Linked DNA regions of Homo sapiens. The protein of the gene in region 2 interacts with the protein of the main gene of each other region in a pairwise test. Each region holds a gene or a part of one and is shown on either strand. Other genes may lie near its edges.

Evidence for each region. The genes of interacting proteins can lie anywhere in the genome.
Region 1: the proteins of FERMT3 (region 2) and ANKRD29 interact in binary tests that used the Homo sapiens proteins (3 or more experiments, as listed by UniProt).

Annotation. Positions count from the first base shown.
Region 1 is NC_000018.10:23,598,426-23,603,953, forward strand, and holds the end of ANKRD29 (ankyrin repeat domain-containing protein 29), read right to left. Parts: intron 2,885-5,528; coding exon 2,801-2,884; 3' UTR 501-2,800; downstream 1-500.
Region 2 is NC_000011.10:64,209,717-64,216,758, reverse strand, and holds part of FERMT3 (fermitin family homolog 3 short isoform), read right to left. Parts: intron 6,149-7,042; coding exon 5,915-6,148; intron 5,708-5,914; coding exon 5,588-5,707; intron 5,485-5,587; coding exon 5,316-5,484; intron 5,115-5,315; coding exon 5,012-5,114; intron 1-5,011. UniProt on the Homo sapiens protein: Plays a central role in cell adhesion in hematopoietic cells. Acts by activating the integrin beta-1-3 (ITGB1, ITGB2 and ITGB3). Required for integrin-mediated platelet adhesion and leukocyte adhesion to endothelial cells.

The DNA of each region.
Region 1 (5,528 bases), on a different chromosome or scaffold from region 2:
CTGAGTAGGTGTCTCAGTGTGGGATTTATGAAGAGACGTAGCTTTCTTGTGGCGGCAGAGGGTGGATGGAGCAGATGGAAGCCAGGATGTTCCTGTAAATCTCCATATTCCTGATGTTACTGCTGCAAATTATTGTCTCCTACACCAACAGTTCTGCAAAACCACCAGCTACTTCACAAGAGAAAGTTATTGCAAAGGACTAAAGGGCCAGGAGCATCATAAATAATACAAATCAGAAAATTTTCTATTTTCAGCATCTTAAATAACTGTCCCAAGAATTCTTTTCTGAATGAAAACTTTTTGGAATCATTTCATTCTCTACAGCAGAGATAATGAAATCATAGGTCCATTACTAAAATAAAGTTTAAATATCTATTTAGGGTCCCAAATATCAATATATTTACAGAGTTGAATTATTCACCCTAAAATTCCATGCTACTAAAAATCACATAGCAATAACTCTTGATTAAAAACAAAAAGAAAAAAGCAGCAAAGGCAAATGGGGTAGTATATTAACTTTATTTTGAATTATTATATAACATGGAATATGTCATCAAAGAATGAATTAATGAAAAACGTTTGTAGTTCAGTTAAGCAGATGATTTGCATAGGAATTGCTAGTTTTAAGTCTTAGGATGCGGAGCTAACTGAATTGTCAATTAGATTAACATAGAATAATCATTTACATGTGTGCAAACTAAAATGCAATTTTGAAAATAACACACCTTTCCGTACAGTCTTTGGTAGGTGATGATTCATTTTCCCTGCTATGGGTAATCTCATCTAGATCAAATGTGATCCTTCTAAGCTAGACACCTCTTCCCTACAGTAAGAAGGCCTCCATATTGTTCAAGCTACTGGCTTCAATTTTATGGCTCTAATATTGTTCAAGAACATTACCCACTTAAAACTATTGATGTAATAGGCCAATTACATGTTTTAGTGAAAAACAGTAAGTTTGTGATTCATCCCATTTTGGCTTTTGGAACTTTGTTATCAGTACCCATAACGTTTTGCTTTGTATCAGTGATTAGCAACTATTTTTGCCATAAGGGCTAACTAAGGGGAAAATACAAAGCATTTAATGCCATATTATTTTCCTCTTCAAAATGAATATAGCTTTTTGAAATTCGCACAGGAGAAAATGTATATTTGTACAAATTTGCTGAATAAAAGAATGTCAATGAGGAAATGGCATTGATTTTAGCCACCAAAATGTTTATATCTGGATGTTTTAGCAACAGAGAGCTTTCTAATATTTTATCCTAGAATCAGGTTGCAGGCTTTTTGTATAGCTGGTCAGGCTGTAGGCACCTGTGGGGCCTGTGAGTTGCTCATTTGCTTGAGACATTTATCAAAATATGCTGATTTTTGTTGCATTAATTGTTATAAATTTTAAGAGAATATCTTCTAATTTTGAAGATTATATTCTATTATTTACTGAATTAAAGATAATCCTTTTAGTAACTCTGAAAGTTGGTTAAACAAAAATTCTTTTGGGATTACAACATTTTCCTCTAAAAGTGTCTTTACATAGACACTGACTGAAAACCAGAGCAGAACATGAAGAAATAAGCTAAAGATGTGTTTAAATAGCAGAAATACCATTGCGTTTATTTTGGTAGATTACAGAAAGAAGGTTTTATTTTTGTATGTGCAGTTAGGCACTGACTGAGGCATTTAGACACCATTAATTATAAAGTGCATTGAATATAAGTTTTGATCCCTTTCAAAGGAATAATTCAATAAACCTCATATTTCATTCTTGGAATCAGTCAACTCAAAAACATGCATAGATGAAGACTTACTAAGTGCTAATAACAGTCTTTTATTATTTATATTCCTGCAATAGTAATAGCAACATACTGTACTTGCATATATCACATTTTATCCAAGGACCTCAAAGTCATTCTATCAAGCAGCACGGTGTTGGAAACTCAAGATTCCACAGCATGTTAGGTATACTTACTTATAGAATAGGAAATAGATTCCCAACAATAGAGCCAAAATAAAAGACCAAAGAGACAAGCCTATATATTTCTCGTGGTTTATAAGTTTCTGAATTTCCAAATTTGCCACTGGTATTTTAACCTACCTACAATGTTGACTCTACGTAAAATTGATTTTTACATGTCAGGAATAAGATGAGGATCAACGAACAAATGCACAGTCTGTCTTTTCTATAGTTCAATAGTCCATCTTTGAATAGCACATAATGGAATGTCAGAAGTGGTTTTTTAATAATGTATGTTTACACTTCATTGATTTATAACAATCATGGCTATGGTTCTTGGGTAGAGGAGAATGTTTTATACTGGAATGACATACATATGTAGGTAAAATATGATAGATCTATATATTTTAGCACATCTACATTTAACACAAAAGCAAAAGTGCCTCAATCCATTGAAGGTCAGCTTTTCAGTCTTTTAAAGGAACAAAGCATTCTGTCTCCTTGCTTAGTACTGAGAACCCTGTCCACCTTAGAGTTTAACTGACAGGTCCAAGTTAGCATTGTTGAAAATGAGTTTCTGTGGAATCTGTGAACATGCCAGGCCCCCCGGGAGATGAGTTACAGGACACCATGAGAAGTCCATGGTGAAGGGGCAAGAGGGTCCCTGAGCTGTTTGGTTCTTGACTTCGTGCACAGAGCGTAGCTCTTCTTTGTCAGGGACCCACAGGATGGGCATTCTGGGCATCTTTTTTTTTCATAAAAGAATTTCCAACACTGCTTGAAATGCAATTTCTTTTTGGACAATGTGGTTAAGCTTTCTATCTTTCTGTCAAATATGGAGCTAAGTTAGCTCTTTCTGGGACCTTCTTTACTTCTCAGGAGACGCAATATACGTTCATTTTTGGTTAGTTCTGCCGGAAGTTCATTGGCCTGAAAGAAGAGAAGATGGGCATTAGTGAATCCCCATAGCTGGTGTGGTTTTAGGGACTCCAAAGAGGGGCATTTGACCCACTCTTTCTCCTTCACTAATGAAAAAAATCCACACTGGACTCACTCTTTTATATAAAGGTATTACAAATCTTCTTTAAATGTATAAATATTACTTGTTATATCCTTATCTCATTCTTAGAGACATTTTCCAGCCAGATCCCTTACTAGACTGTAATCTCTTAGGGGGAAGGGTCCAGATCTAATTAATCATTGTATCCTTATCTCCAGCACAATGCCCAGCATGTCTAAAATGTGCTCAATAAGTACCGGTCAAATTAAATGTTATACCTTATATGTATTTTATTATTATTATTTTTTGAGACAGGGTCTTGCTCTGTCACCCAGGCTGGAGTGCAGTGTTGCAATCATGGCTCACTGCAGCGTTGACCTCCCCAGCTCAAATGATCCTCCCACCTCAGCCTCCCGAGTAGCTGGGACCACAGATGTGCACCACTATGCTCGGCTAATTTCCAGAGATGGGGTTTGCCATGTTGCCCCAGCTGGTCTTGAACTCCTCGGTTTAAGTGATCCTTCTGCCTCAGCTTCCAAAGTGTTGGGATTACAGGCATCAGCCACCGTGCCCAGCCTACCTTATATTTATTAATGTATGACATGAGGTAGTCTGCCCACTAAGGACTTGGGACTGAGTCAGGACTCAGCACAGGTGTCTTTTTTTTTGTTTTTTGAGATGGAGTCTCACTTTGTCACCCAGGCTGGAGTGCAGTGGTGTGACCTCGGCTCACTGCAATCTCTGCCTCCTGGGTTCAAGCAATTCTCCTGCCTCAGCCTCCCGAGTGGCTGGGACTACAGGCATGTGCCACCATGCTCGGCTGAATTTTGTATTTTTAGTAGAGATGGGGTTTCGCCATTTAGCCAGGCTGGTCTTGAACTCCTGACCTCAAGTGATCCGCCCGCCTCCGCCTCCCAAGGTGCTGGGATTACAGGTGTGAGCCACCGCGCCCGGGCCAGATATCTTTTGATGAGAAGGCAGAGATAGGAAACCTCCAGAGCATAAGAGACACCCGGGAAAGAAGAGCATTGGTGGCTAACACCTTCCACCTTACTCAGTATCACTCGAAGGCCTTTCTTTTCACATTGCTGCTGAGATACATCCATTAGGCATCTAGTGAACCAGTCCCTACCATTGACAACAGGTGTGATGTGGAAGTGGCTCTCAAACCTGTTGGTTTCAGGACCCTTTATACTCTCAAAAATTACTGAAGAGTCTAACAAATTTTGTTTTTAACTTATTAAAAATGAAAGCTGAGGGCTATGCGCAGTGGCTCACACCTGTAATGCTAGCACTTTGAGAGGCTGAGGTGAGAGGACCACTTGAGCTCAGGAGTTGGAGACCAGCCTGGGCAACATAGTGAAACCTCATCTCTATTATTTAGAAAGAAAATATTTTCAAAAAGAAAAAAAAAAGAAATTAAAACTGAGAAAATTTTAAAAATATATTTATTAATTCACTAAAAATAATAAATCCAAGTTAATATAGTTATGAAAAATTAAATTTTCAAAAACAAGTAAAAATTCTCAGAAGAGTAGCACTGCTCAACAGCTTTACATATTTCTTTCATGTGTAGCTTAACAGAATACAATTGGATTCTCATATCTCCATCTGTATCCTGTCTATTGTGATATGCTGTTTTGGTAGAAGGATATAAAGAAAATTAAGCTTCACACAGATATGTAGCTGGAAAAGGAAGGAGTATTTTAACAGTCTTTTTGGATTGCTGTGGATATTATTCTCTGATGCCACATCAATACTCAACAAATGGTAGTTTCTTAAAGGTTAAATGCAATGTGGGATTTGAAACCATACCAATGAACTTTAAAACCCACAGGTTTATCTATTTATAGTTGGATCTTTTACCTATGCATGGTTTGTAACATGCACTGCTCATTTGGAAAATATCAGTTCACTGAGTTTGTAGAATGTTGGCACATTTCATTGTGCAATATCAAAAACTCACATTCTGGCTGGGCGTGGTGGCTCACGCCTGTAATCCCAGCACTTTGGGAGGCCAAGGCAAGTGGATCACCTGAGGTCACAAGTTTAAGACCAGCCTGGCCAATATGGCAAAAACCTGTCTCCACTAAAAATACAAAAATTAGCTGGGCGTGGTGGCACATGCCTGTAATCCCAGCTACTCAGGAGGCTGAGGCAGGAGAATCCCTTGAACCTGGGAGGCGGAGGTTGCAGTGAGCTGAGATCACGCCACTGCACTCCAGCCTGAGTGATAGTGAGAGAGACTCCATCTCACAAACAAACAAACAAAAAAACTGATCCATCAGAAAAGCCTTTAAGTTTTGGGAAGCTGTTAAGGTCATAGTGGTAGATACCTTGTTCTTTCAAGTAAAAATAGTGATCTATGAAAAAAGTGGCAGGTTCACTTTGCAATTCAAACAACTGCACAGGGACTGTGGAGGCTAATGCAACTCCATCTTGGATGCTAATCTGCCATGTTTACTTCTTTTTTTTTTTTTTAAGACGGAGTCTCACTCTGTTGCCCAGGCTGGAGTGCAGTGGTGCCATCTCGGCTCACTGCAACCTCTACCTCCCGAGTTCAAGTGATTCTCC
Region 2 (7,042 bases):
AGTGGCGTGATCTCGGCTCACTGCAAGCTCCGCCTCCCAGGTTCACGCCATTCTCTTGCCTCAGCCTCCCAAGTAGCTGGGACTACAGGCGCCCACCACCACGCCCGGCTAATTTTTTGTATTTTTAGTAGAGACAGGGTTTCACCGTGTTAGCCAGGATGGTCTCGATCTCCTGACCTCATGGTCCGCCCTCCTTGGCCTCCCAAAGTGCTGGGATTACAGGCGTGAGCCACCGCGCCCGGCGAAAAAATCCTTATAGAGGCTGGGCCCGGTGGCTCACGCCTGTAATCCCAGCACTTTGGGAGGCTGAAGCGGGCAGATCACGAGGTCAGGAGTTTGAGACCAGCCTGGCCAATGTGGTGAAACCCCGTCTCTACTAAAAATACAAAAATAATTAGGCCAGGCGTGGTGGTGCATGCCTGTAATCCCAGCTGCTCGGAAGGCTGAGGCAGGAGAATGGCTTGAACCAGGGGGGCAGAGGTTGCAGTGAGCCGAGATCTTGCCATTGCACTCCAGCCTGGGTGACAGAAGAAGACTCCATCTCAAAAAAAAAAAAAAAAATCCTTACAGAGCTAAAGCACTGCACTCATAAATCAAGACCAGAATATTCTTTTTTTAAAGGAATGTAACTGGGCGCAGTGGCTCACGCGTGTAATCCTAGCACTTTGGGAGGCCGAGGCGGGCGGATCATTTGAGGTCAGGAGTGTGAGACCAGCCTGACCAACATAGTGAAATCCTGTCTTTACTAAAAATACAAAAATTAGTTGGGTGTGGTGGCAGATGCCTATAATCCCAGCTACTCAGGAGGCTGAGGCAGGGGAATCTCTTGAACCCGGGAGGCGGAGGTTGCAGTAAGCCGAGATCGTACCACTGCACTCCAGCCTGAGTGTGACAGAGTGAGACTCCGTCTAAAAAAAAAAAAAAAATCCCAACTTCTCAGGAAGCCGAAGCGGGAGGATAACTTGAGACCCAATCTGGGCAACGTAGCAAAACTCCATCTCTAAACAATTTTTAAAGAATTAGCCAGGCTTGTGGCACATGCCTGTAGCCCCAGCCACTCAGGAAGCTAAGGCAGGAAGATTGCTTGAGCCCAGGAGTTCAAGGTTGCAGTGAGCTATGATCGCACCACTGCACTCTAGTCTGGGTGACAGAGCGAGACCCCATCTCTAAAAATAAAAAAAGAAAGATAAAAATATAAATTTGGTTCTATTAAAATAAAGAGCTGCTGTTTATGAAAAGAAACCATTCAGACAATTAAAAGGCAAAGCACAGAGGGGGAAAATATATTCACAATGTATTTATCTGGCAAAGTGCTCATATCCAGAATATATAAAGAACTCCTACAAATCAATAAGAAAAAGACAAACGACTCAATATGACAATTGTCAAAATGTTTGAACAGAAACCTCACAAAGCAGGATATCCAGATGGCTAATAGCCTTATGAAAAGGGACTCAACTTTATTAGTCATCAGGGAAATGTAAATTAAAGCCACATGGAAAGCAGATCAGTGGTGGTCGGGGTGTGGGAGGAGGAATGACTGCAAATGGGCATCGTGCAATCAGTGCTTGTCTGGGGCAGTGGAAATGTTCTAAAACTGGATTGTGGTGATGGTTGCACAACCATACACATTTGTTAAAAATAAGCTGAGCCGGGCGTGGTGGCTCATGCCTGTAATCCCAGCACTTTGGGAGGCCAAGGCAGGTGGATCACCTGAGGTCAGGAGTTCGAGACCAGCTTGGCCAACATGGTGAAATCCCATCTCTACTCAAAATACAAGAAGAAATTAGCTGGGCATGGTGGCGGTGGGCATCTGTAATCCCAGCTATGTGGGAGGCTGAGGCAGGAGAATCGCGTGAACCCAGGAGGCAGAGGTTGCAGTGGGCCGAGATCACGCCATTGCACTCCAGCCTGGGCAACAAGAATGAAACTCCCTCTCAAAAAAAAAAAAACCCTATAAAAGAACACTCAAAAAACAAGAGCTCTTGGAACTTAAAAATATAGTTACAGAAATTAAAAATTCAATAGATATTTTAGAAGATAAGTTGAAGAGGTCTCCGGAGAGTAGGACACAGAAAGAAAAAGAACCGAAAAATAAGAAAGAAAAGTGTAGGCCAGGCATGGTGGCTCACGCCTGTAATCCCAGCATATTGGGAGGTTGAGGCAGGTGGATCGCCTGAGGGCAGGAGTTTGAGACCAGCCTGACCAACATGGTGAAACCCCATCTCTACTAAAAATACAAAAAATTAGCCAGGCGTGGTGGTGGGCGCCTGTAATCCCAGCTACTAGGGAGGCTGAGGCAGGAGAATCGCTTGAATCCGGGAGGCGGAGGTTGCAGTGAGCCAAGATCACACCATTGCACTCTAGCCTGGGCAACAAGAGCGAGACTCCATCTCAACAACAAAAATAGATAAATAAATACAGTTAGCTGGGCATGGTGGCGCGTGCCTGCAGTCCCAGCTACTTGGGAGGCTGAAGCAGGAGATCGCTTGAATCCGCGAGGTGGAGGTTGCAGTGAGCTGAGATTGTGCCATTGTACTCCAGCCTGGGCAACAAGAGCAAAACTCATCTCAAAAAAAAAAAAAAAAAAGGCAATTATGAACTTCAAAACCATTTGAGCAAAAAGGGAAAAAATAATCATAGTTACTCTGTGGCTTAACTAGGAACACTATTTATATGTGTTACTATTTACAGCCATATCACATTGTTTTAACCAAAGACTACAGACACTACTCACTTAGAAAGAGGCAAGGAAATGTGTGTATTGTGTGGGCAGGGAAGAGAATGTAAGACAGTGAAACCTTCTTACAAAGTCAATAGATAATGTGTGAAATGGCAAAACAAAGAAGTGGAAATATGTCATAGAGAAGAAAACACTAGAATAAAAAGGCACAGCTGGCCCGACGCCGTGGCTCACGCCTGTAATCCCAGCACTTTGGGAGGCCAAAGTGGGCAAATCACCTGAGGTCAGGAGTTCGAGACCAGTCTGACCAACATGGAGAAACCCCGTCCATCTCTACTAAAAATACAAAATTAGCTGGGCATGGTGGCTCAACGCCTGTAATCCCAGCTACTCGGGAGGCTGAGGCAGGAGAACTGCTTGAACCCAGGAGGCGGAGGTTGTGATGACCTGAGATCACGTCATTGCACTCCAGCCTGGGCAACAAGAGCAAGACTCCATCTCAAAAAAAAAAAAAAAAAAATTAGGCCAGGCGCAGTGGCTCGCTCCTATAACCCCAGCACTTTGGGAGGCTGAGGCGGGTGGATCACCTGAGGTCAGGAGTTCGAGACCAGCCTGACCAATATGGTGAAACTCCATCTCTACTAAAAAAATACACTCCTATTACCCCAGCAATTTGGGAGGCTGAGGCGGGTGGATCACCTGAGGTCAGGAGTTCGAGACCAGCCTGACCAATATGGTGAAACTCCATCTCTACTAAAAAAATACACTCCTATAACCCCAGCACTTTGGGAGGCTGAGGCAGGTGGATCACCTGAGGTCAGGAGTTCGAGACCAGCCTGACCAATATGGTGAAACTCCATCTCTACTAAAAAAATACAAAAATTAGCCAGGCCCACACCTGTAATCCCAGGAGAATTGCTTGAACCCAGGAGGAAGAGGTTGCAGTGAGCCGAGATTGCACCACTGCACTCTAGCTTGGGCAACAGAGCAAGACTCCATGTCAAAAAAAAAAAAAAAATTAGCCAGGTATAGTACACGCCTATCGTCCCAGCTACTTGGGGAGCTGAGGCTTAAGGATCACATGACCCTGGGAGGTCCAGGCTGCAGTTAGCCGGGATAACACTACTGCCCTCCAGTCTGGACAACAGAGCAAGACTGTGTCTCAAAAAATAAAAATAAATAAATATATAAATAAATAAAGCTTAGGAGAGAGACATCTGAGCTGGAGATGATCAGCTGGGAGAGAGTGTGGAGATGGTATTGAAATCCACAAGACTGGAGATGACTGAGAGAAGGAGAGGAGAGAGCAGAGGCCCAGAGCAGAGCCTGGGGCAGAGCCTGGGGCTCACCAACACCGAGAGGCCATGGAGAGGAGGAGGGAACATCACAGAGCCTGGCAGAGTGGCTTGGGGAGAGGCCACCCCCCAAGCAAGTGTACAGGAGGCTTCAGGAGGAAGATATTCTGGAGGAGTGGTCGGGGTGGTGTCTATGCTGCAAGTAAGTGGTCAAGTAAGAAGCGGGTGGGACATGGCCAGGGAACAGATAGCCTGGAGACGTGGCCACCTCAGCAGGTGCACTTCTCACGTGTGGATGGTGTCAAAATATATAGAATAGCCATGGCCAAGGAGTGAGAGGGAGTCGAACAGCACCCAGAGAAAGCTTGGAAGCAAGAAGTGGGATTCTGCGGAGCAAGCGTTCAGACAACTACGATGTTTTGCAGAGAAAGGGGGCAGAGAGGTGGGGCCTACAGGTAGAAAGAGCAACCTGTGGACTTCTGGGAAGTTTTTGAGATGTGCGCGAAGCACATTGCATGGAGCATTTTGCCTGGAGCATGTTGGTTGCCAATGGAGGAAGGGAGGAAGAGTGAACAGGGCACAGAGGGGCCACCCTGCAAAGCTTCCTTCCTCACCCACCCCCAGGTCCTGCAGTCCCTAATGGTGCCCCCTCCAGGAAGCCTTCCCAGAGCTCCCAGGCTTGGGCCTCTCCCACCTGAGCCCCAGACTTCTCAGGGGCACCCACACACACACTGTCTATGAGGATCTGTGGGTCTTAGCTTCCTCCCTGACAGCTCCCTGGGAAACAGGCACTGAGACTTACTGGTCTTCATCCGCTTCAGCATCTGCCCGGGGCCCAGGACCTGGCCTGATGCTGAGGTGAGTAGATGAGTTTCAGTGGGTGTTTGTGGGGTCAGTAAACAAAGGTGTGGATGGACAAACGGGCAGACGGACAGGCCACTACAAGTCACTAACATCCCAGAGCCCATACCCCAGGCCCTAGGTCTCCACATCTCATGGACCTGAGGCCCGCTTTCTCCCTGCCCCGACCCACCTTGGGATCCAAATCGAAGAAGCTGTAGTACTTGAAGCGCAGCCAGAGTGCGTCCCCGGCCTTGATGCCCTGCTGCATGAGACACCGCGACGAGTCCAGCCACCTGGGCCGCGGCAGAAGCAGCAGTCAGGGCTGCGCCAGGTACGGCCGTGGGGTGGGGAGGGGGGCTGGGCTGGGGGGACAAGCACACACAGAGAAAAGGCCTGGAAACGAAGTGTGGATCTGGGGTGGGCACAGACACGGGACAGGGGGTGGATCCTGGGTGGGGGAGCCCTGACACAGGGGGCGTGGCTCCTGGGTGCACCTGCTGTGGAGCTGGGTCTTGTCTGACAGGGAGCTGGGCCGTGGCAGACGCTGGAGCAGGAGGGGGTCGGGTGGCGGCTGGGGCCGGCTCAGCATGTGGTAGCAGGCCTCAGTCTGGGCGCTGTCCGAGAAGTGAGCTGGCATCCCCCGGAACAGTGCAGGTGCCACGCCTGGAGTGCAGGTTGGGAGTCAACCAGGCCTGTCCCCCAGGGCTGGGACTCACGGGCCGGCCCCTGCCCCCAACCCCCCAGGCCCACCCCCACTTGCACTCACCCCCAGCCAAGACAACCTTGCTCAAGTCATAGAGCTCTTCCTCTGGCTCCTTCTCTTTCTTCTTCTTCTCCTTCTTCTCAGGAGCCCGGAGCAGGGACAGCTCCTCGGGGTGCCGGATGCCTGAGGGGAGCTAGGGTCTCAGCGGGGACTAGGTCCTGCTGCAGCCTCCCCACCTCACCCATGGGTGCTTGGGGCGGGTCACAGCCCTGCAGGCAGGGTGGCAACCCAGACAGCAAGGACAGCGTCAACAGAGCTGGGCCTGGAAACGGGGGAACCTGCCTCTTTGCATCACCCTCGTGGGCCAGGGGAATCAGCCGGGCAACTTACTGAGGAGGCGGCAGATGGCAGCCACAGCCTGGAAGAGGGGCTGGGAGAAGCTGGCACGGAGGCGCAGTGCGCGGCGGTTGGGCAACCGAAGGATGACGGGCCGGTGCTGGGGCCCAAAGAAGAGGCGTGCGTCGGCCAGGATCCCGTACTTGTCCAGTGTCCAGTGGGTCTGCAGCAGCCACTGCCTCTTCTGTTCCCACCAAATAGCATGGTCTGACCAGTCCTGCTTGCGATCTGTGGGGCACGGGGGCACATCTGGGTCCAACCTTCCTCCCTGGTGCCCCCAACACCCAGCACAACCCCAGGATTCAGAAGCCTGGGGCGACCACTCCCCTGCCCTGCCTAAGCCAAGAGTGGGGCAGCCTGGGCGGGCCTGGGGTCTACCCCATGGTAACAGCAGCAGGGCTCTCTGCAGGCAGCCCCTGATTTGGCCTTCTAGGCTTGGCTTCTATATCGCTTCCCAGGGGAGCTCTCCAACCCAGCATCTGAGTGCCCCAATCTTAGCGCCCCATCTCTTGCATTCCAGCCCACTGGGCTCCCTCCACATGACGCCCCCTCTGTCCTCCCATAATCCACGGTTTAACAGCCTCTGTCTTGCATTCTGGGGAGCTCCTGGAGGCAGAGACTACGTCTGTCTCACCGTTGTATGTCCTCAGGGCCTGGACCTGTGCCTGGCCTGGAGCAGTGAGCACTCAATATTTTTAGCTATTAGCTGTGTGACCTTGGACAAGCCACTTAACCTCACTGGGCCTCAGTTTCCCTGTAAGATACAATAACGATCTTACAAACTGGGACACGGAACAAGGCCTCCCATGTGGTAGCTGCAGGGTTTGCAGCAAACTTGTGCACGCACATGACGATCCATGAGTGAGCATTGAATTAGAGATGTGCGTCTGTCCCTTGTCAGCCAGCTGGGAACTGGAGTTACAGTAATGGAAGGCACAGGTCTCCCCGCCTCCTCCCTCCAGGAGCATGAACAGGTGGGAGAGAGCATAGGAAAAAGGCTGCCGGAAAGCTGCTCTGGGCACACAGCCCTTGAGAGTTTGCAAAGCCCTGTTTCCTGAGTTCCTCCCAGGTCCTCCCGGTGAGTTTTCTGATTCCCACTGCATCCCACCCACCTCAGCCAGC